Linked DNA regions of Homo sapiens. The protein of the gene in region 4 interacts with the protein of the main gene of each other region in a pairwise test. Each region holds a gene or a part of one and is shown on either strand. Other genes may lie near its edges. The genes, in order: SLC26A6, SLC34A2, GAD2 and TMEM128.

What was found.
Region 1: the proteins of TMEM128 (region 4) and SLC26A6 interact in binary tests that used the Homo sapiens proteins (3 or more experiments, as listed by UniProt).
Region 2: the proteins of TMEM128 (region 4) and SLC34A2 interact in binary tests that used the Homo sapiens proteins (3 or more experiments, as listed by UniProt).
Region 3: the proteins of TMEM128 (region 4) and GAD2 interact in binary tests that used the Homo sapiens proteins (3 or more experiments, as listed by UniProt).

What each region holds. Positions count from the first base shown.
Region 1 is NC_000003.12:48,632,451-48,640,368, forward strand, and holds the start of SLC26A6 (solute carrier family 26 member 6), read right to left. Parts: upstream 3,012-7,918; 5' UTR 2,944-3,011; coding exon 2,921-2,943; intron 1,397-2,920; exon of another isoform or gene 1,186-1,396; coding exon 1,027-1,185; intron 941-1,026; coding exon 801-940; intron 635-800; coding exon 524-634; intron 1-523. Other genes in the region: CELSR3 (cadherin EGF LAG seven-pass G-type receptor 3 precursor), read right to left, coding at 5,755-5,782, 7,224-7,918. UniProt on the Homo sapiens protein: Apical membrane anion-exchanger with wide epithelial distribution that plays a role as a component of the pH buffering system for maintaining acid-base homeostasis.
Region 2 is NC_000004.12:25,672,846-25,679,267, forward strand, and holds the end of SLC34A2 (sodium-dependent phosphate transport protein 2B), read left to right. Parts: intron 1-241; coding exon 242-409; intron 410-1,450; coding exon 1,451-1,567; intron 1,568-1,659; coding exon 1,660-1,784; intron 1,785-3,289; coding exon 3,290-3,904; 3' UTR 3,905-5,903; downstream 5,904-6,422. UniProt on the Homo sapiens protein: Involved in actively transporting phosphate into cells via Na(+) cotransport.
Region 3 is NC_000010.11:26,219,753-26,226,776, reverse strand, and holds part of GAD2 (glutamate decarboxylase 2), read right to left. Parts: intron 2,891-7,024; coding exon 2,800-2,890; intron 2,239-2,799; coding exon 2,126-2,238; intron 1-2,125. UniProt on the Homo sapiens protein: Catalyzes the production of GABA.
Region 4 is NC_000004.12:4,245,213-4,252,491, forward strand, and holds the start of TMEM128 (transmembrane protein 128), read right to left. Parts: upstream 3,012-7,279; 5' UTR 2,991-3,011; coding exon 2,894-2,990; exon of another isoform or gene 2,414-2,893; coding exon of another isoform or gene 2,389-2,413; intron 1,132-2,388; coding exon 990-1,131; intron 1-989.

The DNA.
Region 1 (7,918 bases), on a different chromosome or scaffold from region 4:
GAGCCCTGGTCTTAAGAGAGAGGCCAGGAGACTTCCAGTTCTGGATAAATGTACTCAGATTATGGCTGCATGAACAGGGACAGTGCTGGCGGTTCAGGTTTGGCCAGGCCAGGAGTAAACCCTGAGCTCACAGGCCCTTAAGCATGGCTAGAAATGCTGGCCCTGTCTCATCTACCCTGTCCCACCTGTGTCTACTGGTCCCGGGACACAGAGGCTCTCTGTGGAGTAGGGAAGGGGTCAGGGCTGGCCTTAGGCTGCTCAGGCCTCTGCCAAGTTCCAGGCCCCTTGGGCTGCCTCACCCACTCTCATCTTCCTGGAGCCAGGGCTTTGAGGTCACCTGCCTCTGTGGTCCTACAGTCAGGGGTCTAGTCCTGCCTGGGGATGACTCGTGGGCTAGCCCAGGGATGCAGCACCAATGCTGCCCTCTTCCCCAGCCGCTCCTGCCCTGCTCAGTGCCCCCTCACCCTGCCCTCCATGATGGATGTGGGCATCCTCCTGGAAGGCTAGGCCTGCCTCCACTTACCCACGGAGATGTGCCGGGAAGTGCCAAACAGGAAGTAGATGAAGACAGGGTAGAAGGAGCTATAGAGGCCAAACACGGGGGGCAATCCAGCCAGGAGGGCGTAGGCCAAGCCTAGGGGTAGAATGGTAGCAGTGCAGGCCTGGAGAGCAGATCTTGAAACGATAAGGGAATCCCAGCCCTGGGTTAGGTGCCATAGTTCCAAGGTAGAGGTCATGGCCCCAGTTTTGGGCATCACAGACCACAGGGTTTCCAGGCCGACGCACTGAAGGTGGCTCACCCTGCGGAAGCTGCATGATGGCCACACTCAGGCCGGATAACAGGTCACCCAGGAGCCAGTCACGCACAGGATACCGGGGTAACCAGACCAAAACCGGGAGGTGTTGGAGCAGAAGGGCATAGGCCCGAGCACGGGAGCACCTAGGGACATGATATGAGGGGTAGGTGTCAGGAACAGGGGCTACCTGGGCCCCGCCAGCGCCCCCAGGCCCCAATCTTGGCCTTACTGCAACCAGGTCCGCCACTGGTGGGTCCTAGGTGCTGAGCCCCAGCGCCCCAGCTCCTCCAAATGCTCCTGGTTCAGCAGCGGCCGTTCCATGTGGTAGTCTCGCCTCCGCAGGTCCATTGCTTGTGTTGCAGACAGCAGTGCCTGTGTGTCCCTCGGTCTGGGGTGGCAAGACCAGAGAGACACAGTGAAGGCATCCCTGGCCCAACCTCCCCTACACCTCCACCTAGGACCAGAGAGTTACCTACCTGATTTTTCCAGGCCCTAAGATCAAGGTACAGTATTCCAGCCCCCAGCTGGCATCTGTGGGCCACATGTCCAAACTCAGACAGGGGCAGTACCTGAACTTTGGCTGGTGAGAAAGCCTCTTTCTAGGACAAAGTCCCCCAAGTAGGGACTGCAGGATGAGCACTAGCTATACCTCCAGCCGAGATGTGGCAGCCCAGTGCTGAGTGTTCTACCAGTCCAGGTCCCAGGCTGCTCCCTCCCCCACCCAGTCCCTCTCCAGTCCCCAGGTCCTCCTCCAGCTGCCCCGGGAGCCCACTGCTGGCTGAGAGCACACTCAGGGAAGGGGTCCAGCAAACCAGGGGTCCAGCTCCTCAAGCAACTCCTTTCCCAAGCCTCAGGCCTCAGATGAGACCCTCCCCTCTAAGGGAAGGAAAGTGTTGGAGCCAAGCTTGCCCCTGGGCCTCCAGCCCCAGGGTCCAGGTTGTAGACGGCTCAGGCCTGTTATGGGGAAGCCAAGGACTGGCTCTCACCTGAGAAGGAGCTTGCTCTTGGAGTGGCAATCTCTCACCTAGAGGGAGAGGCTCCCACATGGAAAGGGAAGTACCCACTTGAAGTGGGGGAAAGAGCTCACCTGGGAATAGAAGCTTTCAAGGGGAATCTCACCTAGAGGGATCTCTGACCTACCAGGGAATCTTTATCAGCCTGGCAAGTTCTGATACAGGGGGAATCTTCCCTCTGCCCAGAGGCACCTACTTGAAGTCAGAGAAAGATCTCACATGGGAAGAAAAGACCTAGAGGGAGAGGGTTCTCACCTGGGGGGTACTCTCCCATAGAGAAAGCTCTGACCTCGGGCGAGGCTCCCACGTGGAATGGGGAAAAGCTGTCACCTGGGAATAGATCTCACAGAAGGATCTTACCTGGGGGAAAACTCTAGCCTGTTGGGGAAGCTTTCACCAGTCAGGAAAGTTCTGATCTAGGAAAAGCCCTGACCTGGGGAGAGGATCCCATTTGAGGGACAGGAACTCACCTGGGAAGCGCCTCTAACCTGGCTGTACTGTTGGAGGAGTGTGGAGTGGGTGCAAGGAAGATCCTCAGAGACTCTTGGGACCGCTATCTCAAGGAGATCGTAGAGCCCCCTCTCCTTTCCTACGTGAGTCACTCAGGTCTTCTTAAAGGGCTCCCTCCCCCGACAACTTGGGACCCGCGTTTGGAGGGCGGAGCCTTGATCATTGGCCCCTCCCTGTAGGAAGGCAACTGGGGCCAGAAAGGCCGGAGCGCTCACTCCGGGATCAGTGGAGCTGGGTGGACTCGGGACTCAGCTGAAAGCAGCTAGTCCACGGGCCGCTGCCAGGGACTCCCGTGCCCCACGCACCCCCGCCGGCACATCTCCTGGCCGGGCTCCTCCGCACGCAGCTGCCTCCCTGTGGCCCGGGATGGCCCTCGGGCGTCACACCAGCGGCTTTCCGCACAGCCCAAGGGACTGGGGTCGCGCCGGCTCCCGCCCCCACCCCTTGCTGCAGAGGGGCAGCCGCCTGCAGAAAATCAGCAGAGGTAAACCGAGGCGTCGCAAGCGGAGAATGCCTGCTCCAGCGAGGCGTCGCAAGCGGAGAATGCCTGCTCCAGCGAGGCGCTCGCGCGGGGCCACCGGGAATGTGCGCTGAACTCACCCCGACGCATCCGCCAGCCCCATGGCTCGCAAGTTGTCCGGTGCGGGCTGCTCCTGCTGCTCGAGCTAGAGGCCGCTACGCTCCGGAAGGCGGCGCCGGGACCGGGTGAGGCCAGCTGCGCTCTCCCGGGGGCTAATCCCGGGGCAGGACGGGGAGGCTTGGGCCAATCAGCGCGCTGGGGCGGGGCCTAAGTGGCGCGCGCCGGGCGGGGAGAGACTGGAGAAGGAGGATTTAACCGCTTCCTCCCCGGCGACCTGGCCTATGAGGCCTCTCGCTGCTCGCCCGGCCCTCTGCCCGGAGCTGGATGGGACTGCAGAACTGGAACTAAGCACCCGCGCCGGGCTGGCCGCAGTCGCGCCCCCAGGCCCTGAGTAGGTTGGAGCTGATCCCAGGTCCTGGCTCGGCGGAAGGTGCTCACGGAGTGGGAAAAGGAAACTCCACTGGCCGGTGACCCCAGCCTTAACTCGTAGGGGATCCAGGTCTGTGGGGCCTCTCTTGCCTTCAGCTGAGAGCGCCACCCGCAGGCTTTCTGCGACTACGCATCTCTTTGAGACCCGGAGCCAACGGTCCCCAAGTCCTCCCCTTTAACTCTGGCCACCCAGGCCAGAAATGGTTGGAGGATCCCCTCCGCTGCACTAAGCACAGCCCGGACGTAGCTCCCAGAAGGTTACTGCGCGGGCCGCCGAGGAGAATGGTGGGGGTCAGTGCTGTTGGGTGGGCGTCAGTGCTGTTGGGTGGGCAAGGCAGGAACTGCAAGAGCAGTTCCTCAGGTTGGTTTCACCGCAGGTGAGGGCAAAAAATGCCGGGTCAGGGCTGCAGACCCTGAAGAATTAGGAAGTCCTGTTGCCGTTGCCTTGACCAGCGGGGAGGTTTTCCTTAGCACCTTATTTTCAGCACCTGTGCTCCAACATCAGGCCCCAATTACAAAGTGAGGGGCCAGATTTCAAGGTGAAAGAGATCTGCCATGAAATGGGCTAAAAATAGCTGGATATTCTTGGGAGGGGCTCAGATTCCTCCCAAAGGTCAGTCTGGCTTGAATCATTCACAGCTTCCATCCTACCTCCCCAGCCCCCAACAGGAAAAGGCAACAACTGTTTTCTATAGAAGTTTATTCCCAAAACAGAGCGCGGCTTCACGGAACAATTTACACAGACAGGAAAGAGGGCCGCTGGGCTGGAGGAGGGGAACCCCAGAGAGGGGCATCTACGAAACCTAGGACATAGTAAAGACACCCTCCCACCCCCAGCAGGCCACTCAGCCCTTCAAGAGCTGGGGTCCTTCTCGGTAAGGAGAGTTTGGGTCCTGGCTGGTGGGATTTAGCTCCAGTCAGGGAAGTAGAATTTCTAATCTCCCAGGAAGCTGCTTCCCAAGAGTATGCATGGGGTGGTGGGTGAGGAGGTGTCTGCACAGACCACCCCCCAGCCCTGCACAGCCACTCTCCCCCGTGGTTAGAGGACGCCTACTCTCAAGGTCTTCTGGATCTGCTGTTAAACGGGACTCAAGGCTGACCTTCGGCCTGGGAGACCTGGGGGTTAGAAAACCCCTCAAGATGGCCAGGTCAGGGTCCTCACAGGTGGGTCCTCCAAGTCCCTCTCCCACTTTCCCTACCTTTCACTTGGAAACAAAGGAAAAAAAATTATCTACTGTAAACAAAGTGTAAAACTCAAAGTTTTGAGTTGTAAACAAAGTAAAAACATTTTTTGAATCTGGACTTGTAAACAGTAACAAAATTTTAAAGTCTTCAGTTCTGGACAGCAGACAAAATAGCAAAAGTAAGAGTTTTGTGAACAGGGTCGTAACAGTCATTTTTCCCTTTTTAAGGGAATAAAGGAGGAGTGGAACGGAGTCACTTCCTGCAGCCCAGGTGCCTAGGGCCACGGAGGATCCTGTAAACATAGGAGGCAGTGGCACCTACATTCTGGGTCTTGAATTCCCTTGTTTCTGCTCCCTTTGCTCACCTTCCCACCCTACCCTTCGGAATCAATTCAAGCAGGGGGCAGTGTCAGGGAATCAAATGGCACCACAGACAACTTTTGCTTGCTGCAGGGGCAGGTGAATGACCCCTCCACCGACCCTCTGCAGGAATGTCTGACTAGAGGCCCGAGCCCCTCCCCGTGGGAGACAGGGAAGCCTTGCTCTGTAAACACGACATCAGCTGCTCCACCAGCACCCCACAGCATCAGTCCTAGGTCATAAGGCAGTAAGTGGCAGGGACTCCACATAATAAACACACACATCCACCAGGAGGGGCGGTATGAGCAAGCCCCCATGAGGAAGTCAGAGGACCCCTGTTTCCAAGACCAACCCCCAGCCCCAGAAGTTTGGCCTTTGGAGCATTCAATAAAAAGCAAAGAACAATTCTGTACTTTGGGCCCCTGACGATACTCAGATCAACTTGGGGGTGGAATAGGGGGAGGAAGGCATGTGTCCCACCCATCTGAGTCCACCCCAGGAAGGAGAGAGAGATGAGCATAGGGTTTGCTCAGGACCCAAATGGGGTCAAACTGCATCTCTCCCTCTATCTCCCTCCCCCTCCCAGCCCAGCCTCAAACCCCCCAGGAGACAGAAAAGCTGAAAAATAACATAAGCATCTCTCTGGTTACAAAGGTACAAAACGTATAAAAGTCTCCCTCCAGTCCCCCGTCTCTGCACCTGTCACACGCATGCTCACAGATGCACATGGAGCCTCAGCCCTGCCACACCAGGTAGAGCTGGGGCACCCACCACTGGGGAGCAGGAGGCTGCCTTGGGATCTGCCCCCACTCCTGGAGTCTCTCCTGTTAGCCTAGATCCTCTGTCGCCCTCAGCTGTTCCTCGTCCACGCCGTCATCCCCTCAGGAGTGACCCTCACTTCTGGGAACTCTGGAGGCACATGAGGAAATCAGAGGTTGATGCCCAGAGGACTCCGAGTCAGGCGGCTCTGGACTCCCCCACCACATTTGGCCTGGCTGCTTCCCTTGCCTCCACCACTGCTCTCGCCTCTTAGCCCCCAGCCCCTTCATGCCCACTCCAGGGTTCTCAGAGTCCTCCATTCCGCGCCCCTAGACTCAGCCAGGCTCCTTGGCTGCCCAGGTGTTTTCTCTAAGTGCTTCAAGAGCACCTACTGTTTACAGATGCTATATTGAGCACTTGACAGATATTATCTCATAGATTTCCACATCTCAAAGAGTTTGTTACTACAGACTTCTTTACAGATGAGGAAACTGAGGCCCAGAAAAGCTTGCCTCTGCCTAAGGTCACGCAGCTAGTAAGGTAAGACACAGAGCTCAAACTCAAACCTGTGCGACTCCAGAGCCTGGACCCCTGCTCAGTCCCTAGTCTACCTCCCAAACAGCCAGACCCCAAAGCTAGACTGCAGGGGGACCCAGGCCGTGGGTTAGCTCCCTCTGGTCCCCACCCCCAGCAGCCCTCAGTGCCCAAGCCCCAGGATCCCCAAACCCCTGCTCTTTCCTCCTTCCTTTGTCCTCTCTCTGCCCTGGGTCCTGCTCAGTTCTGTCGATCCCCTGCCCCACCCCTAGGGCCCCCTTCCTCCCCAAGCCATCTCTTACCCCACAAACCCCCAGAGCCTGACCCAGCTGTTTCTCCTCCTTGAAACTCAACTCTCCTCTTGGCTTACAAGAGACCTGGAAGCTCCTGGTTCCTCCCCACTCCCACCAGTCCCTCTCGGACTCCTGTGTATCCAGCTATTTCCTGGGTCTGTCCGCCATCCCCTTCCCCACAGATGCTTCACACATACCCGAGATGAACCAGGTTCCAACTCAGTTCCTGTGAGCCCCACCCCAAAGTGTCCACAGACAGGAGGAACTCAATGTTGACTGAATACATCGATGAATGAATGATTTATCCTCAACAAAGCAAGCCCTTCAGCCTGGTATATCCTGGCACCACTTCCAGCCTCTCCTTGTCCTATATGACCCCCTAGGCGAACCTTCCCAAGCAAGGCCTCCTGCTCTCCTCCCTGCCCCTTGCATATTCCAGGTCATCTCCCACTTCTAGGCCTCAGCTCCTGCCCTCCCATTCGCTAGCTCAGCCCATCGGATGGCACCTATTTCTCCTTAGCCTGGGAGGTGCTGGGAAGGCTGGCTGGCTCCAGTCACACAGCCAGCAAGTCCCTGCTAGTCACACCCCCATTTCTTGCCAGATTCCTGTCCCCAGCCTGTGGCCCTCTGGCTGTGCTGAGCCTGGGGTAGCCCACACCTGTCTGCCAGCCCTCATCCCCTTCTGTGGCAGAACACAGGGCAGGGCACACAGGAGGTTGCCCTAAGCTGATGAGGGTGCAAGCAGGTGGCTGGACCATACTTACTCTGAGTCTGGCGACAGCTCCGAGATGCTGTGAGACGTGGCAGAACGTGGCGTGGAGGGCCCAAGCACAGAGGCTGTGGCAGAAGGTGTGGCAGTGGTGTGAGGGCCCAAGGGTGTGCTTGAAGATTGCACAGAGGAGAGGGCCGAGGAGTTGAAAGAGGCAAGGATGGAGGAAAGAATGTCCAACTGTTCTGTGGAGGGGCCATGGCTGGGGCCACTGACCGAGTCCTCCCTAGCTCTGAGCAGCTGCGGGAGTGGCCCAAGGGCTTCTCGTGAGGGGTGCCGGCTAGGCACCTGGTCCAGCTGCTCCCGAGAGTTCGAGCTCCTAGACAGAGAGTCCAGCGGCCGGGATGGCAAGAGGGGGTCCCTTGAGAGTTGCCGCTGGGGAGACAGGGGCAGAGGTGGGGGCTGTGGGTCAAGGTCCCGGGTGCGGCGGGGCGGAGGCAGCGTGCTCAACCACTCTCGAGGTGCCCCTAAGTCGAGCGCATCCCGTGACCCGAAGCGGCCAGCCATGGCGCCAGGGTAGTCCCGAGGTGGCTGCCTCCGTGGCAGGGTGCTGCCCCGATCTTTGGGCTCCAGTCGGCCTGGTGCAGCATCCATGCATTCCTGGGACCCTGGCCGGCTCAGGGGACGTAGAACAGGGGCAGGGGCTTCCTCTAGTCGCTCACGGCTCAGTTGCCGCCGGAGGAGCAGGTC
Region 2 (6,422 bases), about 21 Mb from region 4:
ATTTTTAAAGCCATCACTTCATCTTCCAGCCTCATGCGATCCCACTGATTATGACATAGTTTCAGTGGTGCCCCTTGCTGCGAAGGAGGCTGAGAAGGGCTGTCTTGATTTGGGGCTGCCATCTGTTAAACTAACAACCAGGAATCTGTTTGTAGGAAAGACAGGATCTGGGGGAATAAATAACAATCTGTAGCCGTGGTGGCTCCATGCCCTCCTGACAAGATTCTTTGTGGTCTTTCAGGCCAGCATATCTTTGTGAATTTCCACCTCCCGGATCTTGCTGTGGGCACCATCTTGCTCATACTCTCCCTGCTGGTCCTCTGTGGTTGCCTGATCATGATTGTCAAGATCCTGGGCTCTGTGCTCAAGGGGCAGGTCGCCACTGTCATCAAGAAGACCATCAACACTGGTAGGTACACTGCCCTCACTTGTAGGCCTCACATGTAGTCACTGCATGGGGTGTGGGGGTCCTTTAGATTCCCATCTAGCAATGGCCTCTGCATGGAGTTTCTCTCTCAGATTGGATCAGCACCAGAAGTGAGGATGTCATTCACCTGGAAATGTTCTTGGCATCCTGGGTGGGGTCTAGGGAGCAGGCCCAAGTTTCCATTGCATCTTGGCAAGGTCCTGAGCAGGAGTTCATATCTAGAGAGCTGTGAGTCAGGCCTTCCTTCTTAGCGGGTTTCCTGTATGCTCAGAGCTTTACTGGCTCTGTCAAGACCCCTTAGAAAAAGGACCCCAGGTGTCTGCCCTCGCCCCCACCTCCCTTCACTCTTGTAAAGGAAATGTGATGCATAAATACATCAGCATCTAGAGGTGGCCAATGAGACTGCTGGCTAAGAGGATTTCCTGCCAAGTAGGGTGTCCTGGCCAATGAGAGCTCGCTAAGCCAATGACATCATCACTTCATGAAAGCTCAGTGAAATATAGCCAAGAAAATTCGCCCCCCACCCCAGATTGTCTTGGGGAACAGAGCAACTCTGGGTGCTTCTGGGAAATGCAGGGCCTGATCCGGTGCTAGTTGGGTGGAGGACTCAGTTGGCAGGCATGTTCCAAGCTGCTACAGTTTCTTGATGCTCTTTAAGGCAGAAATGAAGGTTGAAGGTCAAATGTGGGTGCTGACAGGAGACCAGGGCAGGCGAGGAAGCATGCTCTCAGCACTTTCTGGAAGGAGAGTGGTTACTTGGGTGGGTTCACTCTTTCTAACCTGACCTCCAGGGAATCTGTGTTTTTGTTTTCATAACACTTACCTGTATCCTTGGTTTTTCCATCTGAATATGCGGAGCAAAAGACAATGGGGAATGAAACTGGATTCTAAAACTCTACTCTGTAATCTGAGACCATATATGGGATGATGTACAACCTCACCCCTAAGCCCAGCCCCTACCCCAGGCCACCAGGCCATACCTTCCCCGGAGAGGCCATGACATCTCTTCCTTCTGTCTTCCAGATTTCCCCTTTCCCTTTGCATGGTTGACTGGCTACCTGGCCATCCTCGTCGGGGCAGGCATGACCTTCATCGTACAGAGCAGCTCTGTGTTCACGTCGGCCTTGACCCCCCTGATTGGTGAGTTACACCCTGGCTTCTCCCTCTGGCCACCACTGCCATTTCCTGTCATCCCATGGGGCTGATATGTTTGTGTTTTGTGTTTCCCCCAGGAATCGGCGTGATAACCATTGAGAGGGCTTATCCACTCACGCTGGGCTCCAACATCGGCACCACCACCACCGCCATCCTGGCCGCCTTAGCCAGCCCTGGCAATGCATTGAGGAGTTCACTCCAGGTCAGGACTTGGGGCACGGGGACAGGGGCCCTGGGAGTGGGACCACCCATGGTCTTGCAAACTGGTCTCTAACAAGAGCCAGGCTTTTCTCTGTACTATCCAAAATATGGAACTAATATGTGGAGGGGAAGCCACGGGTAAAGTTTTCAGGACCTTGATATGAGAACAATCAAAACTATCAGTTCTGAGAGAAGCAGTAAGACCCTCATAACTGGTGGTTGTTTCAGCAAAAGTGGGGTGGCCCCTTGATATAGATGTGGAAAAGGTACTTAGGAAGCACAGACACCACCTCCCATCTCCTCACTGCCTCCTATGGGGAACTTTACAATTAGGAGAACTCCTTGGCATGGACCATCTATGTTACTTTGTGCAAGACCTTTGGGATTTGAATTTATTTATTTATTTTTATTTTATTTTTTTGAGACAGAGTCTCGCACTGTAGCCCAGGCTGGAGTGCAGTGATACAATCTCCACTCACTGCAACCTCCACCTCCCAGGTTCAAGTGATTTTCCTGCCTCAGCCTCCCGAGCAGCTGGGATTACAGGCACCTGCCACCACACCTGGCTGATTTTTTGTATTTTTAGTAGAGACGGGGTTTCCCTATGTTGGCCAGGCTGGTCTTGAACTCTGGACCTCATGATGTGCTTGCCTTGGCCTCCCAAAGTGCTGGGATTACAGGCGTGAGCCACTGCACCCAGCCGGGGATTTGAATTCTTATCTCACCATTTACATACTAAGTGACCTTTGGCAAGTGATCTAACCTGAGCGTCAATTCCCTCATCTGAAAGATGGAGGACATAACCCCTATCTCATTAGGATTATTATAAAGATCTGATGAGGCAAAGCCATCTGTGCAACAGAAATAGAAATTCAGGCATCTAATATAAATTAACCGCATATGTCATCCTAAAATTTTTTAGTAGATACATTTTTAAAAGTAGAAACAGGCTGATTCATTCTTCAATAATGTATTTGATCTAAACCATTATCACTTTAATATGTCATCTGTCAAAAATTGAGAGTCTTTGAAATCTGGTGTGTATTTCATACTTAAAGCACATCTCAGTGTGGACATGCGGCTAGTGTATTGGACAGTGCTGGTCCACAGCCTGGGCATGGAAATTGGCACCTTGGGAAAGTGACCAAGCGCCTGGCCTCTGGAGCCAGGCTCCCAGGATGTGAATTTCCACCTCTTCCATCTCCCACCTGTGGGACTTGAGGAGCCTCCATTTTCTCATGTCAAGAAATAATGGTTGCCACTCTGTAGAGTGTTTTTTGAGAATTGAGATAATGCACAGTTGAGTGCTCCTGGCCCTCCCAGACACATAGTAGGTCCTCATGGAATCCAGGTACCCTCTGGGCTGAGCCATAAGGACAAAGAAGGCCTGGAAGGCCCGAGACTGTGCTGCCTGTGATGCCTGCTAGCTTACCTCCCCCTCCTCCTCCCTACTGCCACCCGCATTGGGCAACAGGCCCCTCACCTGTCCAACCTCTTGTGTTGCAGATCGCCCTGTGCCACTTTTTCTTCAACATCTCCGGCATCTTGCTGTGGTACCCGATCCCGTTCACTCGCCTGCCCATCCGCATGGCCAAGGGGCTGGGCAACATCTCTGCCAAGTATCGCTGGTTCGCCGTCTTCTACCTGATCATCTTCTTCTTCCTGATCCCGCTGACGGTGTTTGGCCTCTCGCTGGCCGGCTGGCGGGTGCTGGTTGGTGTCGGGGTTCCCGTCGTCTTCATCATCATCCTGGTACTGTGCCTCCGACTCCTGCAGTCTCGCTGCCCACGCGTCCTGCCGAAGAAACTCCAGAACTGGAACTTCCTGCCGCTGTGGATGCGCTCGCTGAAGCCCTGGGATGCCGTCGTCTCCAAGTTCACCGGCTGCTTCCAGATGCGCTGCTGCTGCTGCTGCCGCGTGTGCTGCCGCGCGTGCTGCTTGCTGTGTGACTGCCCCAAGTGCTGCCGCTGCAGCAAGTGCTGCGAGGACTTGGAGGAGGCGCAGGAGGGGCAGGATGTCCCTGTCAAGGCTCCTGAGACCTTTGATAACATAACCATTAGCAGAGAGGCTCAGGGTGAGGTCCCTGCCTCGGACTCAAAGACCGAATGCACGGCCTTGTAGGGGACGCCCCAGATTGTCAGGGATGGGGGGATGGTCCTTGAGTTTTGCATGCTCTCCTCCCTCCCACTTCTGCACCCTTTCACCACCTCGAGGAGATTTGCTCCCCATTAGCGAATGAAATTGATGCAGTCCTACCTAACTCGATTCCCTTTGGCTTGGTGGTAGGCCTGCAGGGCACTTTTATTCCAACCCCTGGTCACTCAGTAATCTTTTACTCCAGGAAGGCACAGGATGGTACCTAAAGAGAATTAGAGAATGAACCTGGCGGGACGGATGTCTAATCCTGCGCCTAGCTGGGTTGGTCAGTAGAACCTATTTTCAGACTCAAAAACCATCTTCAGAAAGAAAAGGCCCAGGGAAGGAATGTATGAGAGGCTCTCCCAGATGAGGAAGTGTACTCTCTATGACTATCAAGCTCAGGCCTCTCCCTTTTTTTAAACCAAAGTCTGGCAACCAAGAGCAGCAGCTCCATGGCCTCCTTGCCCCAGATCAGCCTGGGTCAGGGGACATAGTGTCATTGTTTGGAAACTGCAGACCACAAGGTGTGGGTCTATCCCACTTCCTAGTGCTCCCCACATTCCCCATCAGGGCTTCCTCACGTGGACAGGTGTGCTAGTCCAGGCAGTTCACTTGCAGTTTCCTTGTCCTCATGCTTCGGGGATGGGAGCCACGCCTGAACTAGAGTTCAGGCTGGATACATGTGCTCACCTGCTGCTCTTGTCTTCCTAAGAGACAGAGAGTGGGGCAGATGGAGGAGAAGAAAGTGAGGAATGAGTAGCATAGCATTCTGCCAAAAGGGCCCCAGATTCTTAATTTAGCAAACTAAGAAGCCCAATTCAAAAGCATTGTGGCTAAAGTCTAACGCTCCTCTCTTGGTCAGATAACAAAAGCCCTCCCTGTTGGATCTTTTGAAATAAAACGTGCAAGTTATCCAGGCTCGTAGCCTGCATGCTGCCACCTTGAATCCCAGGGAGTATCTGCACCTGGAATAGCTCTCCACCCCTCTCTGCCTCCTTACTTTCTGTGCAAGATGACTTCCTGGGTTAACTTCCTTCTTTCCATCCACCCACCCACTGGAATCTCTTTCCAAACATTTTTCCATTTTCCCACAGATGGGCTTTGATTAGCTGTCCTCTCTCCATGCCTGCAAAGCTCCAGATTTTTGGGGAAAGCTGTACCCAACTGGACTGCCCAGTGAACTGGGATCATTAAGTACAGTCGAGCACACGTGTGTGCATGGGTCAAAGGGGTGTGTTCCTTCTCATCCTAGATGCCTTCTCTGTGCCTTCCACAGCCTCCTGCCTGATTACACCACTGCCCCCGCCCCACCCTCAGCCATCCCAATTCTTCCTGGCCAGTGCGCTCCAGCCTTATCTAGGAAAGGAGGAGTGGGTGTAGCCGTGCAGCAAGATTGGGGCCTCCCCCATCCCAGCTTCTCCACCATCCCAGCAAGTCAGGATATCAGACAGTCCTCCCCTGACCCTCCCCCTTGTAGATATCAATTCCCAAACAGAGCCAAATACTCTATATCTATAGTCACAGCCCTGTACAGCATTTTTCATAAGTTATATAGTAAATGGTCTGCATGATTTGTGCTTCTAGTGCTCTCATTTGGAAATGAGGCAGGCTTCTTCTATGAAATGTAAAGAAAGAAACCACTTTGTATATTTTGTAATACCACCTCTGTGGCCATGCCTGCCCCGCCCACTCTGTATATATGTAAGTTAAACCCGGGCAGGGGCTGTGGCCGTCTTTGTACTCTGGTGATTTTTAAAAATTGAATCTTTGTACTTGCATTGATTGTATAATAATTTTGAGACCAGGTCTCGCTGTGTTGCTCAGGCTGGTCTCAAACTCCTGAGATCAAGCAATCCGCCCACCTCAGCCTCCCAAAGTGCTGAGATCACAGGCGTGAGCCACCACCAGGCCTGATTGTAATTTTTTTTTTTTTTTTTTTACTGGTTATGGGAAGGGAGAAATAAAATCATCAAACCCAAAAGGAGTGTGTTGTTTTTAATTACAGGGAAATAGGGACCTCCTTGGATCTATTTTATAAAAATGTGAGGTCTCCTTTTACCTCGTTGCACTGCTAGGAGCAAGATGGGTCACCAGCAGCTGTACTGGAGCCACCCAAAAAAATTCGGCCAGGGTTCTCGTTCTTGTCGTGTCTATTCAAACCAGCACGGTCTGATCCGGAAATATGGCCTCAATAAGTGCCGCCAATGTTTCTGTCAGTACGCGAAGGATATCGGTTTCATTAAGTTGGACTAAATGATCTTCCTTCAAAGGATTATCCAAGTCATCTACTCAATGAAAAACCATGATAGTTCTTTGTACATAAAATAAACATTTGAAAAAACAAAACAAAACGAACAAAAAAAAATGTGAGGTCTCTTCCTTCACTGAATGTCACTACCCACCACTTACCATCTGACCCTCCAGCTGCATAATTTGTGGAGCCTCTTGTTCAAAAACCTGGAGAAAAGTGTCATTTTATATTGTTCAATGCCAATTTCAA
Region 3 (7,024 bases), on a different chromosome or scaffold from region 4:
AGCATGAAGGCTTTGGATATTATTGATGGAGCTATGACACAGTATGTTTTAAGTCACAGACCTAACTCTTCACATTGAGTCCCAGGGAATGAGACTTTTAGATCCCAGATGCATAAGATGTGTGGCTTTCTCTATCCCCACCCCTTAAATTGTAAGACCCTTTACTGCAGGAGCAAGGCTGGTTGCTCCCGGGAATAGCATCCATAGCCAGTAAGGATGTGATGAGCCACTTCTCGTCTGTGATGTCTTGTAGAAAGTAGAGCAGAAACAGGTTGCAATGACCTTTTCTGCTGTCTCCTCCCAACTTTGCAATGTCTGCACTGCACTGTAGTGTGACATCTATGGCTTGCATCTTGGCGTAAGAGCAAATGGGTCTTTAGGCTCCAAGGAAGCCTATAATTCCCATGCTCAAGCTGAAGTCTTCTCCATGTGAAAATCCCCCATTATCAGTGAGGGTGGAGGGTAAGCTCTAAGCCTAGCAGAACTGCCTAAGAGAATTATTTCTCTGGGTGTATGTTTTCTGGGGCATGTAGGTTTTTCAGACCAGCCAGGTAAATTAGGCCTAGCTGTTAGTCAAATTAGTCAAATTTTCAGGGTCAACAGGTACATCTGTCCTCTCCCTACTCCCGGGGACCATTAAAACTTATGCACGGGAATAAATTCAGCATAAAATAAATGCAAATAAAAGAAAAAAAAATAGAGCCCAGCATGTTCTTGATTCATCTCAGGGACAGATCAATCCTATAACCAACCACACAAGGGTGGGAAGAAGAAAGGTAGAAATGATGTGGATCTCTGTACCCCACCTCATTCCTCATGAACAATGTTTTCAAAGCATCAGGCAATGATGACCAAGCTCCCTCAACAGGGATGGCTTTCCAAAGGAAAACTAAGTACTAAGTGCCATAAAAAATAAAGGCTAGCTTAAAATTCATCACAGCTGGTGTTCAATGACTTTTTAAAAGGCTAATTTTCCCTTCCATTTAACTAACACCTTTTCCTTCAGCACCTGAAAAATTGTGCTATATATTTAAACACATAAAATAGCTGACCAGAGCTTGCAGGCAAACATGCTTAACTTAAGCCCTGGCCTTGGGGTCACTCTTGCTTATCATTTCTTCTTTTCACTTTTTCTTTTCTCCCCTATCCCCGCCTCATCATTTGCTTGTCTTTGTAGATTTGCTGAAGAGAGAGCACAACCACTTGGCCTTTGCTCTGTCTGACACAACGACAGGTGTTGCTCTGGCCTCTCTCTCAGGTGGGTCCTGTCTCAGTGGACTAATGACATCCGCTCCTGCCACTGATTAGCTGATGGTCTGCACATCGGGTTTCTTTTCCATGGGTCAGTGACTCTCTTTGCATTGCCTTCCTAACTTCTATTTCTTTTCTGCATCAAACCAAGGTCACACACAGAACTGTAAACCAAGGGCACAGCTTTTTGTTTCAGGTTGATTCTCTTGGCTGGAAGAGGTCTAAGTAATGGAGCTTAGAATTCAATGGCTGGTGATAAAAAGGCAGGATGGAAAAGACTGAATGGCATGATAAAGAAGAGAAGGGATGAGAAATCTCTTGAAGAAATCGTCACCCTCTATTTTTGCTCTAAGAAATTCTCTCCCAAAGCGTTCTCTGTCCTCCTTGAAATTAGTGTAAATCCACTTTGGTGCTTGTTATTTCAAAGACAGAGTGGTCCATATGCTCTACTGAGTAGATATACCTTGCTATGCACCCTTGAACAGCAAATGCTTTATTAAATGAGGCTACCCATTTCCTTTCACTAATTCTAGGAAGAGCATCAGAGAGTGAATTTCCTGATTAGGAATCTTGATTCCTTTGTTCCACATTATCCGTACATCCTGTTTGTAGGGTCACAGTAGAAGCACTGGGTAAGTACCATCTCTGATTATGCTCACTTTGCACACAAATAACTGATGTTCAAGCATGGGTTACTTAGCTTGGAGGCATGTTCAATGGTCATGTGCACTTAATCACAGTCATTCTTTTGATCAACACACAGTCTATTTAACCTAAGCAGAGGCATAGGCTAGATTTTTAATCTTCCCTAGGTTTACAACAAGGCATTGCATATTAGAAGAAAAAACACAAAGAAAGTTGAAATATCATGTACCGGGAGAAAATATCCCATCGCCAGAGCCCCCTGGCCAGCCAATGATTTCTCTCATTTTCTTTAGTGTGACATATTCCAAAAGCACAAATACTGGAGCAATTTCATAGGTGAACCTGAAATGTAGTAATGGCCACATTTTACCTCTGTAACTCAGATAAATAATTTACAATCATTACAATAGCTACAGAACTATTTCCTTTTTCAAAACATACATTTACAAGTGTTATGATTATAACATTAAGCAGAGAGAAAATTATTTCAAAAAGGCCTTCCAAAATGTTTATTTTTTCTATATCCCTACAGTCAAGAGCTCCAACTACTGACATAATGCACGAGGGGAATTTATTGTATTGAATAAATAAAAAATATTGCAGAGTAACATGATTTAAAATATAATATCTGGTCCCATTTGTCTTTGACATTATGCACAATAATAAATCAAACGTGAGAAAAAAGTCTCTTTTGTATTTTAAAAATTTTGTAGAGTTTGATTACATGGAAGATGTATCAGGACTACTTTCTGTTACATTAAAGTGAACACTCACACTTCAGAAGTTTGTATCACTATTTTAGTGGCTACTTAATAAAAAACAGATTTTCACATAAGATGTAAAGACTATGGAATGTCACTAATAATTATCCTAAATTACATAAAAACACATTTGGCTACTTACATGTTAGTATTTGCTGTTGATGTCAGCCAGTCTGCTGCTAATCCAACCATATCCAAACCAGTAGAAAGTTGATTGAAGTATCTAGGATGCCCTGAATAAAATGGAATACCAGAATCAGGATTGCCTCCAGTGAAAATAAATGCCTCTCAAACACATGATTTCTCTAGCTAAAGGACCTTGAAAGATCTGTCAGTAACAGGAAATCCATAAGTAGAAATCCAACATGTACACACGTGTGTATGCACAAGAACACACACACACACACACATGCACATACACACACACACACACCATAAAAGCGTTTCCTCTAACCACGAAGACTACTTTAGGTTTTGATATTTCTTAAAACATACCCTACAAATCTTCCTTTAATCGGACCCTATAAATATAACAAATATGGTTTGCAATCTGCATGAGTCTCTTTTCTATTTTCAATATTTTCGCAAGCTAAAATGCTACTGCAACCCACAGCCATTCAGACAGGTAACTTCTCCTTTATACTCATGCTGCTAGAAGTCCTTTTTTGTAGTCGTTCTGAGAATCGGTCATACCATGACATCCGCCAGGCATGCCAACATTCATAATAATATCAGTGACAAATGGCTGATGATTACAAAAGACAGGGCAAAAATGAGAAAATAGGACACTCTGCTGAATGATTTGCCCTGGATTCAAAAGGTGATGATTGTCTAAAGATGGCATGGACAAAGCTAATTCTTGTCAATTCTTCTTTGTTAATTATAAACAACAGCGCTCCTCCATAGTTGTGATTTAAAATAAGGCCACATACAGTCAACATCACTGTTTTATCAACAAGATACAGAAAGATATACTCAATCGACTGATTAGTCCATCGCAAGGCTTATCTAATTAACTTCTAGATTCCTCTAAAACTCTCTAAATGGATTGACATCCACACTCTCCTGAGGCTATTATTTAAAATGTGATTATAAATATGTCATTAGCATTCAGTTTTCTCCTCTTGCTCCACAAAAGCCTGTCATCGATAGGTCCGTGATTTGCACAGCAGCAAAAATTTTAGAAGATGGGCCATTGTGGAAATAGCATCTGATAAAAAGGTATCTTCCACATCCTGGACATCTGTCTGAAGCCTGGGATGTGATTGTCTCTCATCTCCAGCACAGGCAAAACAAGATAAAGGAAGGCAATGGGGAAGAGCAGGGACAAAAGTCAATGGCTAGCTTATCTCCTGCACTGGAGTGCTCTCTTATCAGCCTCAGGCATGTGGCCAGACAGACACTGGGTAAAGATATAAGCTGGGAGGGAGCCCATTTTAGCGGGATCAGGACTTGTGTATCTATTGTACATTCTCCAGCATTGTTTTATGTCCTTGTGGCCTCGTGTGGTACCCCTCTATCTCTGATGCTGACCCCCTCAGTTTACCCATCCACGAAGGGTGAGAAGGCTTTTTTGCTGCTGTGGCCACTGAGGTCTGGAGCAACCCTTCACTCCTCTCTGCCTCATTGACTCCCCATTTCATTATGCTCGCAGCTGAAATCACAGCCATTTCCTCCCTCCCGATGCTCCTTCATTTCTCTTTCCCTAACCCTTTTTTTTTCAAGTGAGGAAATTAATAAGGATTATAATTCATATTCATTTTCTGGATGAATGTGGTGTCTATGATTAGACAGTATTTAACTCTAGGGAAACTTGGGAATGAAAACCTGTGCATAAGATGGAGAGAGATTGTGAGGGGTGTGTTGTGCCTCTGGATATCAGAAGGCCAATTCACCCTGATGATAACTTTCCGTAAACAGTGAAAACAGGTTTGACGCTTTCATTGCTAGGTTTCCCTTCCTCCCTATATATATTTTGACCTTGCTCTGCCATTTCACCTGAATCTCTCCTGCCTCAAAAATTTCATTCCCTGATGATGATGTGAAAATAGGGAGGGAGATAGTTTGACAGGTCAGATCAACAGGCTCTCTCGATTTCTGGCAGAAATATTCCCCTAGTGACATTTGCTCCCATCCTGTGGCCCCTACAGGCTGCTTCCTAGGGCTGCCCAGCAAATCAAGGCAGGGCTCTCTCCAAGGAATTGTGAGACCTGCCCCCATAGGTCAGGTGTCCCTGCAGCCCTTGGCCTCCTGCTGCTGTCGCCACCCTGCCAGGCCCTGTGATGGGAGCAGAGCGCACTGCGTCAGCCATTGGGTGGCCACACAGCCTATGCAGCCAGGAAGGTGGCGAGCTTGAGATGTGAGAACTGGCTGCTCAGACTCAGGGATGCTCCCTGCAGACTAGCAAATGAGCCCGGAAGGATGCGCAGACTCTGCGAACAACCAGCCTCAGGCAACTCTGACCCTGTGCTCATGATCAGTTGGGAAGAGGCCAAAAGTCGGTCCAAACTGCTCTTTATGTCCTGGCAACACTCACACTAGGGCTGCCTCATCTACTGACGCTTAATTCCCTTTGTCTGATGGTTTGGTAAAAGATTCAGGACCACATTTAAGTCCTACTCTTCCCCAGCCAGCACCACCACCACTAGCACCAAATCTAATGATCTCTGCAAATGCAAATTATTCTGGAATTCTATCATTCTCTGCTCAGTTTTCCGTGTTCCAACATTTCTTTTTACAGAGGTAATTTTAACAATCCATGAAGACTTCATTTTCCCACTGCCCTTCACTCCTCTCTAAGCTTGGAGCCCAAGTGGAAATCAGGTTAAGGTCTCTCAGTAGAAACAAGATGATAATATGCATTTTATAAAATAATCTCTTGAGGAGTATTAAAATGTCTGGTAGTAGCAAGGATGGTAACTAATTTGACATACCCTAAATAGCATTAGATGACAAGTATGACAGTTATAGCACAGAAATCTATAAAGTTGCCAGCTGAATAGAGAAAATGACTGCTGTTAATTTTTTGAAATGCTATTTGAAGGAAAAGGCCAGCAGACTAAATATGTTATGAAAACTATTGAGAGATTGAATTGATATGCCTTGCTTAGAAATCCAACTTAATCCATCACATTTTTATCTGAACTTTAAATAAAATGCATTACAGTGACACCTAACAGTTTCATAAGCATTATGGCAAAATGTAAGTATTGAATTAGCCCATCTTTTCCTGGCACTAAATGCAACGTTGATAGACAGAACTATTACTTTCATTGACTTGCAGTTCCCATTATCTTAACTCTGTAGACTGCATTTCAGGCACCACTAGCTTTCAAGGATGAAGACACAAAACATTTCCATAGGTTCTTTTTGGTTTGGTAGCAATACAAACAATAGGTGGCAATTTACTATTAACGTATCTAAATATAAGGTATGGGGAATGGGTCAAAAAATGAATTAAAAGCATCACCCAGGATTGCACTATGAATGCAGGAAAAGCTGAGGAGGGGTAGGAAAATTTTTAATGCCTGGTATAAACATCACGTGGGTTCTTCATGAACGTTAATTGAGGATGATGTCTAATACACCTTCAAAACTCCTATTCCATAGCCTGACTTTGATAGAAATCTATGTCCCAAGGCTTTTTGTATGCCTACCTTTCTTCTCTGTTGGTACAAATAATGTGAACAAAAAGAAAAAAAGAACTAAACTTCTCACAGCAAACATTTTAAGAATGTTTGTTATTGATTAGCGTAATACTGCTAATTCATCAGCAAAATGTTTGCAATCTAAAAAGATGACGTTTCTATGGTGATGAATGTTCATGTCATATTTCACATTTTTTATTTGCTAGCAAATCTTTTAAAGGCTACACATCAACTTCGATCCACAAAGTCCTCCCCACCCCTGGAAATTCATTCATACTTATTTTTATTGCCGTAATGAAGTGTCAGCCATCGTGTATCAGGATGATTAGAGACAACGTAAAAAGCGAGGGTAATCAAGACCTGGGCAGATGAATGGCTGACTTTGTGTAGATAACATGAAAGCTCGGAATGCACCCAAATAAATGTTATAAATGAAGCTGTAATATGGATGGAATATAAAGACTCCTGTGAAAAGCCAAGAGACCACAAAAGTACATTTAAAAAAATTTCCCCCTAAGGATATCTGATTTGCCCCTCCCCCCCTTTTTCTTTATCTCACATATACAGTGGCTGGGAGGAACACACATCCTTATATAACATGGCTGAATTGCTAAGCTAGTCTGTATCATGCCTGCTTGTGTGTTGTGCACATTTCCTTAAAAATAAGTGAAAATCTGAATTCAAATCTGAAAGGTTGGCCATTTGACACAATGTGAAAAC
Region 4 (7,279 bases):
TCACTCTCCAATGTGCAGTAAGGACCCTAGGATATGATTCCAACCCTCTCCTCCATGTCAACTCTGGAGACTATACTGAAAGGATCTCAGTCCCTGTGAATGAGGAACTACTGGACATCTGGTCTGGCCACAAAGCTGTCACTCCTCCCACTGTGGACCTTCACCTCCACTCTAACACAGTTACACCCTGTAGTTACCTTGTCAGCTGTAACCACCCTCTGAAACCAACCCTGAGACCCAATTCCCACTGGCCACAGTTCTCGGCTCTTCCTCCCAGTACTCTTGTACTTGGTCTTTGAAGACCTTCAGTCAGTCTTTCTCCCTCTTTTCCCCAAATGGATTAGGTTCTTCTTAAATTTACTACCTTCCTCATCCTACAACACATTTATTTGCACACAAATAATTTCCAGTTCTATTCCACTCTACTGTATGTGCCCAGAGCACACACCCTCTCATTGGTTTTATTTTTTCCAGCTTTATTGAAGTACAATTGACAAATTAAAATTTTATATATTCAAGGTATACAGTGTGATGACTTGATATATATATACACACACACATGAATATATACATATATACATATATATGAATATATATATACGTGTATACATATACACACACACACATTGTGAAATTATTACCACAATCAAGTTAATTATCACACTCATCACCTCACATAGTTACCACTGGTGGGGTAACAGGGGGAGGACACAAGACCTACTCTTAGAAAATTTCAAGTATACAATACAGCCTTATTAACTATAGTCACTATACTGTATGTACATTAGATCTCCAGACCTTATTCATCTTATAACTAAAAATATGTACCCTTTGACCCCCATCTCATATTCATCTTCGTATCACCACACCTCCAACACAGGGCCTGGCAGAGAGTAGTAGGTGCTTACTGTTTGAAGAATTCAACTAACAAAATATAACACGAAAAATCAGACTTGGGTTTAATTTACAAAGCAATAAAATTTTCTTACCTGCTAGTGTGGAAGTTTTCTTTAAGGGTTTTAAAGAAGTCAACATAATAGGTCACAACAATGGATGCCAAAATCCAGAATCCAGAATGGATATTAAGTCTTGGAAGAGGTTTCTCCTTTTTCTCAACAGCTGTGGAGGTTTCTGCAAATAAGGGAGATTTCAACTTATTAAGTTACCACAATTTTGCGAGGAAAAATTACACTTAAGCCAAATAAAATCATTTCCTAGAGCTAAGAAACAGTCTCTCCCATGATAACAAATCCTTCTGTAAAACCCTTGAGATAGGTTTATATTTACAAAAAATAAGAGCCCACTATAAAATATGGTCAATACAGTCAATTTATTTCCTCTAAATACATTGTGAAATCAAATTTACACTTTCATCGTCTTTCGGAAATAACAATGTCACCTGGAAATGTAAGAATTTTAATATTATGTTTCACATTTCTTCTAGGAAAGTAATTAGTCTTGTTAATTAGGAAAAATGCCAAAGGCAAACATTAGCGCATGAACTGGACTTGTGGTCTTCCAAGAACACTTTTATAACTAAATTTTTTTTTTTTGAGTCGGAGTCTTCCTCTGTCGCCCGGGTTGGAGTGGAATGGTTTGATCTCGGCTCACTGCAACCACCGCCTCCCGGGTTCAAGCAATTCTCCTGCCTCAGCCTCCCGAGTACCTGGGATTACAGGCGCCTGCCACCACGCCGGGCTAATTTTTGTATTTTTAGTAGAGACGGGGTTTCACCATCTTGGCCAGGCTGCTCTATTTGGCCAGGTTGGTCTCGAACTCCTGACCTCGTGATCAGCCCGCCTCAGCCTCTCAAAGTGCTGGGATTACAGGCGTGAGCTACCCTGCCCAGCCTATAACTAAATATTTTAGTTACTTTAAACACAGCTCAAAAGTGGAAACGGCACACCAGAGCTCTAGTTCCAGCACAGCACTGTCTAGACAGGTGATGGACAAGACATTTTTCCTGTCTGGAACGCAATCTGAAAGAATGGGTGGATGGGGGTTGGGTCAGATGGATGATTTCTATTAAGTTTTCCGGGGATTCTGACATGCCCTCTAGGTTCACGTGAGAATCAATGGTCCACATCTGAGGTTTTGGGCCTTTAGATGACCATCGGAAACCCTGGGAAGCATGTTCGTAATATTCTGGGATATCCTCAAAATGTATACATCATCATGCCTGGGCATGAGGTTATTCGTGTTTTTAATTTTAAAAGGTAATAAATGGACGTGGTTTTAAAACATATGAGATAAAAAATATCCAAAATGAAGTATCTGTCTCCCATCCTTAACCTCAGATCTAATCCCCAGAAGCAACCACCACTTACAATTTCTACTGAATTCTTCCATATTCTATGCATTCACAGGTGAACATACATCACAAGTTACCTGTTTTGTACCCAAATGGCGGCATACCATAGTGTTCCACACTTCCCTTTGAAAATCATCCCCATTGGTACATACGAGTCGACCTGATGTGTCAGGTATACATATACCCAAATTTACTTAAACAGCTTTCTGCTGACGGGCAAGGCAGATATTTCCAGTAATTCGCTATTACAAGCAATCCTGAAGTGAAACACTGCGCACATCATTGTACACTGCGGTACACGCATGTTTCTGGTAAATCCTTAAGACTTAAAACTGGTGGGTATTTTTAATTTTAATCGCTATTTCCAAATAGGTGTCAAATCAGCTCTCCAGAGAATTCTGAAGCGCAGCTGAAATGACGATGCACAGCACTCCGCGATTCTAAGGATCTTCCCTGACATTAAATATTCGACTTGCAAAGCCGAAACTCAGTCCTTCCAGACTGGGCCAGGGCTGCCGGAGGCCGGCCGTTTTCCGACGCCTCGCCTCTGAGAACCTCGGGGCGGCTTGGTGCGCGCCTCACCCGGCCCGGCGTCACCCTCGCGGTCCAGCTGGGCCTCGGCGTCCGGCAGGAGGAGGAATCGCCGCCGGAGCTGCTGCCGGGCCCGCGAGGAGTCCATCTTGGTACCGCCCCGAAATGCGACGGAAGTGACGTCAGACACAGCGCTTCCGGCGTCCGCTCCGGGTCTGGACCTCCTGGCGTTTGGATTGGAGACTGTGTTCTCTTCGCTGTTTAGTTAGCGAGCAGCTAGGGTGGAGTCGGCCTCAAAGGTTCCGCTCTCATGTCGGCAAGTGTGATTTGAATTTTAAAACACTGAGCTTTGCCGGTGGAAGAGTTCCCAAGTTTATTCCGACCTACGGAAGCCCAGGAGGACCAGGATTACCGCTGCCGCTGGATGCGTCCAGGGCCGGGATGCGCGACCGTGAGACGCTGCGCTTCCGAAGCCCTCGCAGGCTTCCGGGTGCCAGAGCAGGAGACATACCCTCTGTCCAGCCTTCCACTCTCAGCCCCCAGTTTTTTTCCTACTTTTGCTTTTCAGGAGTCGTCCAGCAAGACTTGAAAGGAGGAGAAAGGCCTGCTGGACAGGATGCTAGAGCCTGGCAGTGACCACTTGGGGGCCCTGGGCATTAAATAAACTTCTTGGGGCCCGTTTCGTTATTACACTTGGCTCTAGATTTGTTGTGCGTTTCAGTGAGAAGTACCTGTATGTGGTTCATGTGAGCCTCCTCCTCGCCACTTGTGAAAAATCCTCCCAGCCTGAACCGAGGGAACTAAATTGCTTTCCCAGCAAACTGCGGTTTTCCACACTGCTCACGCCCACAAACTGTGTGTTACGAGTTCACAACTTTTTCTTCGTCAATAATCCCGCGTATTACTCTCCCAGCCGTTTCCCAGCGTGTCATGTGCTGAGAAATGGTGGGCTTAGCCACGCAAACGTTTACTGAGCATCTACTATTTGGTAGGAGCTGTTAGGCACCATGCTAGCAGTGGAGATAAAGATGAGTAAGACATGGCCTTGCACGTGAGGAGCTCCTTGTCCAAAGAAAACCACAGAGGTATATTACAAGAAAACTCTATTTGTAAATGTATGAAAGCATTTCATCAATGCAGCCAACATTTTCTGAGCAGCTGCATGTGATAAAATGGTGAGGACAGAAGAATCTAGTAGAGGAAGCAGCTTCAATACAGTGCCATAATAAAAACACTGTACATGGGGCATAATAGAAACACTGTACATATAAAGGGCAGTTTATTCTGCTGCAGTGTGGGAGAGCAGGGAGAGTGGTTTCAGGTGAGTTGAATACAGGGGTGGAGAGCCAGCTACATAGGAAGTAAAATTTGAATTAGTAGGCACTGTTTAATATCTTCGATGTGTTGGGGTGTTTGTAAAAGGAATGTAATAAGAAATACTCAAGAAAAGAGTGCCAGCCGCGCGCGGTGGCTCACGCCTGTAATCCCAACACTTTGCGAGGCCGAGGCGGGCGGATCACAAGGTCAGGCGTTTGAGACCAGCCTGGCCAACATGGCGAAACCCCGTCTCTACTAAAAATACAAAAGTTAGCCGGGAATGGTGGCCGGCACCTGTAATCCCAGCTACTCTGGAGGCTGAGGCAGGACAATCACTTGAACCTGGGAGAAGGAGGCTGCAGTGATCCTGCCACTGCACTCCAGCTTGGGCAACAGAGTGAGATTCCCTCTCAAAAATAAAAATAAAAAAAATTAAAAAAAAGAGAGAAATACCAAATCCCTACTGATTTATCATTTCTTCAGCCTTTCTTCCCCCTTCGGAGCACAGGATTTAACAGCTGGGTGGATCATATGGCCTTTCTAAACAATACCTCCTTTATCCTGTTTTTTTTTTTCTGTTTTTTTTTTCTTTCAAGACTCCTAAAGAACTGGATTCATTTATTCAAAGTCAACTGAAGTCTTTGCCCTCTCTTCTCTCTCGTACGGGGTTAGAAGCCTTGTTAACAGGAAGTGAATTTGTCCCATCAAATACAATCTTCTGTTGATTGTCTCCTCGAAAAAGGGTCAGTGCAGGGCCTCCGTGGTAACTGAATACTCCCAAGAGCATCGCCGCTATCCCAGGTTCCCATACATGGTATGTTCAGGTCAGATCAGGTTTCTCCTTTTGTGGTTTCGGGGCCTTTGAATTTGGATCTGAAATCCTTCCAGAGTTTTTTTCTCTGCAATTTTAAATGGCACTACTTGCACAGCATATTGATGATACTTAAAAGGAGGTTGGAAAAATTCCAGTATTTAATGACCACATCTTCATTTCTGAGGTCCATTAAAGAAGCCCTTTGGGCAGGTGCAGTGGCTCATGCCTGTAATCCCAGCACTTTGGGAGGCTGAGGCAGGTGGCACCTCAGCTCAAGAGTTTGAGACCAGCCTGGCCAACATGGTGAAACCCCGTCTCTACTAAAAATACAAAAAAAAAAAAAAAAATTAGCTGGGCATGGTAGCAAGCGCCTATAATCCCAGCTGCCTGGGAGGCTGAGGCAGGAGAATGGCTTGAACCCAGGAAGTGGAGGTTGCAGTAAGCCAAGACCACCCATTGCACTCCAGCCTGGGCAGCAAGAGTGAAACTCTGTCTCAAAAAAAAAAGAAAGAAAAGAAAAGAAACCCTTCAATGTGTGTACTGTGGCACCCTAATTATAGATAGATATGTGATACCAGATTTGCTACCAATTAAGAAATTTTCATTTTCAATGTGGATTACTTGTGGGGAACAAATGAATTTCATTGTGACCTTTACTGGCCCCCCCTTAGCAACATAGTTAAATCCAAGGTGTGTATAGACTGTCAAATCCTGCCTCCATCACTGTGGGTCTTTGGGCAAGTTATTTTATTGTTCTAAGTATCAGTTTGCTCATCTGTGAAACATCGGGTATTGGAGTGAAGATACATGTATACAGATTGTTTAGCTTAGTGCCTGGCATACATAGTTTGCCTCCAAACAGCAGTAGTTACTATTCTTAGTAATTTGGCTTGCCAGGCCTTCAAGATCCGGCACCTGTTCGCCCCTTGATCAGTGTTCCCTTGTCCCTGGGTTCCAGTGACTCTATTCATGTCTCTCTTCCAAGAATTACCAAGCTTTATTGTTATTTTCCTTTTGCCCTGTGTTTCCCCCAGTTGATTGGGAGAAACAACCATGTCTTGGTATCCCCCAGTACCTTGCAAACACCGAGCACACGGCAGGAACTCCATTAGCTGTGCTTACTTTGGTCCTTGAGCACAGCTAACTTGTCTTCAATATGGATATACATGTGTCTGCCTACCTCTGAGAAACCACTGCTGCTTTCTATAGTGGTCCTGCTCAGATCCCAGAGACTGACCCCGTCCTAGGGGAGGGCACAAGACCCAAAACAGACCTCTCATCCTCCACGTCTTAGGCTGGGAAGATGTTCACGGTTGCTTTGATATGGTGAGCTCTGAGGTCAGTTTGGGCTTGGGGCTGCTGTTCTGGAAATGGGAGCCCACGTGGGAAGGAAGCACTGAGAGGCAAGCTAAGAGGTCTTGGTAGCATTGCGCCGCCTCCCAGATCTAGCCAAGCCTTAGTTAATCCTGTTAAGGAACTGAGCTCTGGAGCTAGCTGCCTGCCTGGCTGTCATTGCCGGTCCTGTCATTACTGACTCTTTGAACCTTGAGAAAGCATCTTATCCACTCTTTGCCTTAGTTTCCTCACTTGCAAAATGGGGTTAAGAATAATACCCACCTCACAGGATTGGGTAAAGATTAAAAGTATTAATACATGCGAAGTCTTTAGAGCAGCCCATAGAAAACTCTCAGTAAATCTTAGCTGTTATTATCCATTGCTGAGACTTTACAGATGGTTAAATTTTCCCTTTTTTAAATTAATTTTAATTTCAGTTGTTTTCTGTTACTTGAAACTCTGAGGCCAGACCAGTACCACCCTGTTCTCTCACTGTGCTGTGTAGCTGCCCCATTGGTCCCCAGGTATTCTGTGAGCGCCTCCAGGAATGAGAATACAGGTAAAGCTCTTAGAAAAGTACCTGGCATATGGAAAGTGCTCAGTGAATGTTAATATCTATCATTTAGGATACTGTTCTTCATTCCAAGAAGAAAGCTAGTTTTAAAAAGTTCTTCCATTGATTGTATAAAAACACAATAAAATGTGTGCCTATTTCTACACAGCTGTGATTATTCCCCTGGTAAAAGCTATAGCATTGGAATCCCTAGATCAAAAGATACAAACGTTTTAAAGACTTTTTTTTTTTTTTTTTTAGATGGAGTCTTGCTCTGTCACCAGGCTGGAGTGCAGTGGCATGATCTCAGCTCACTGCAACCTCTGTCTCCTGGGTTCAAGCAATTCTCCTACCTCAGCCTGCCGAGTAGCTGGGACTACAGGCGCATGCCACCATGCCCGGCTAATTTCGGCTAATT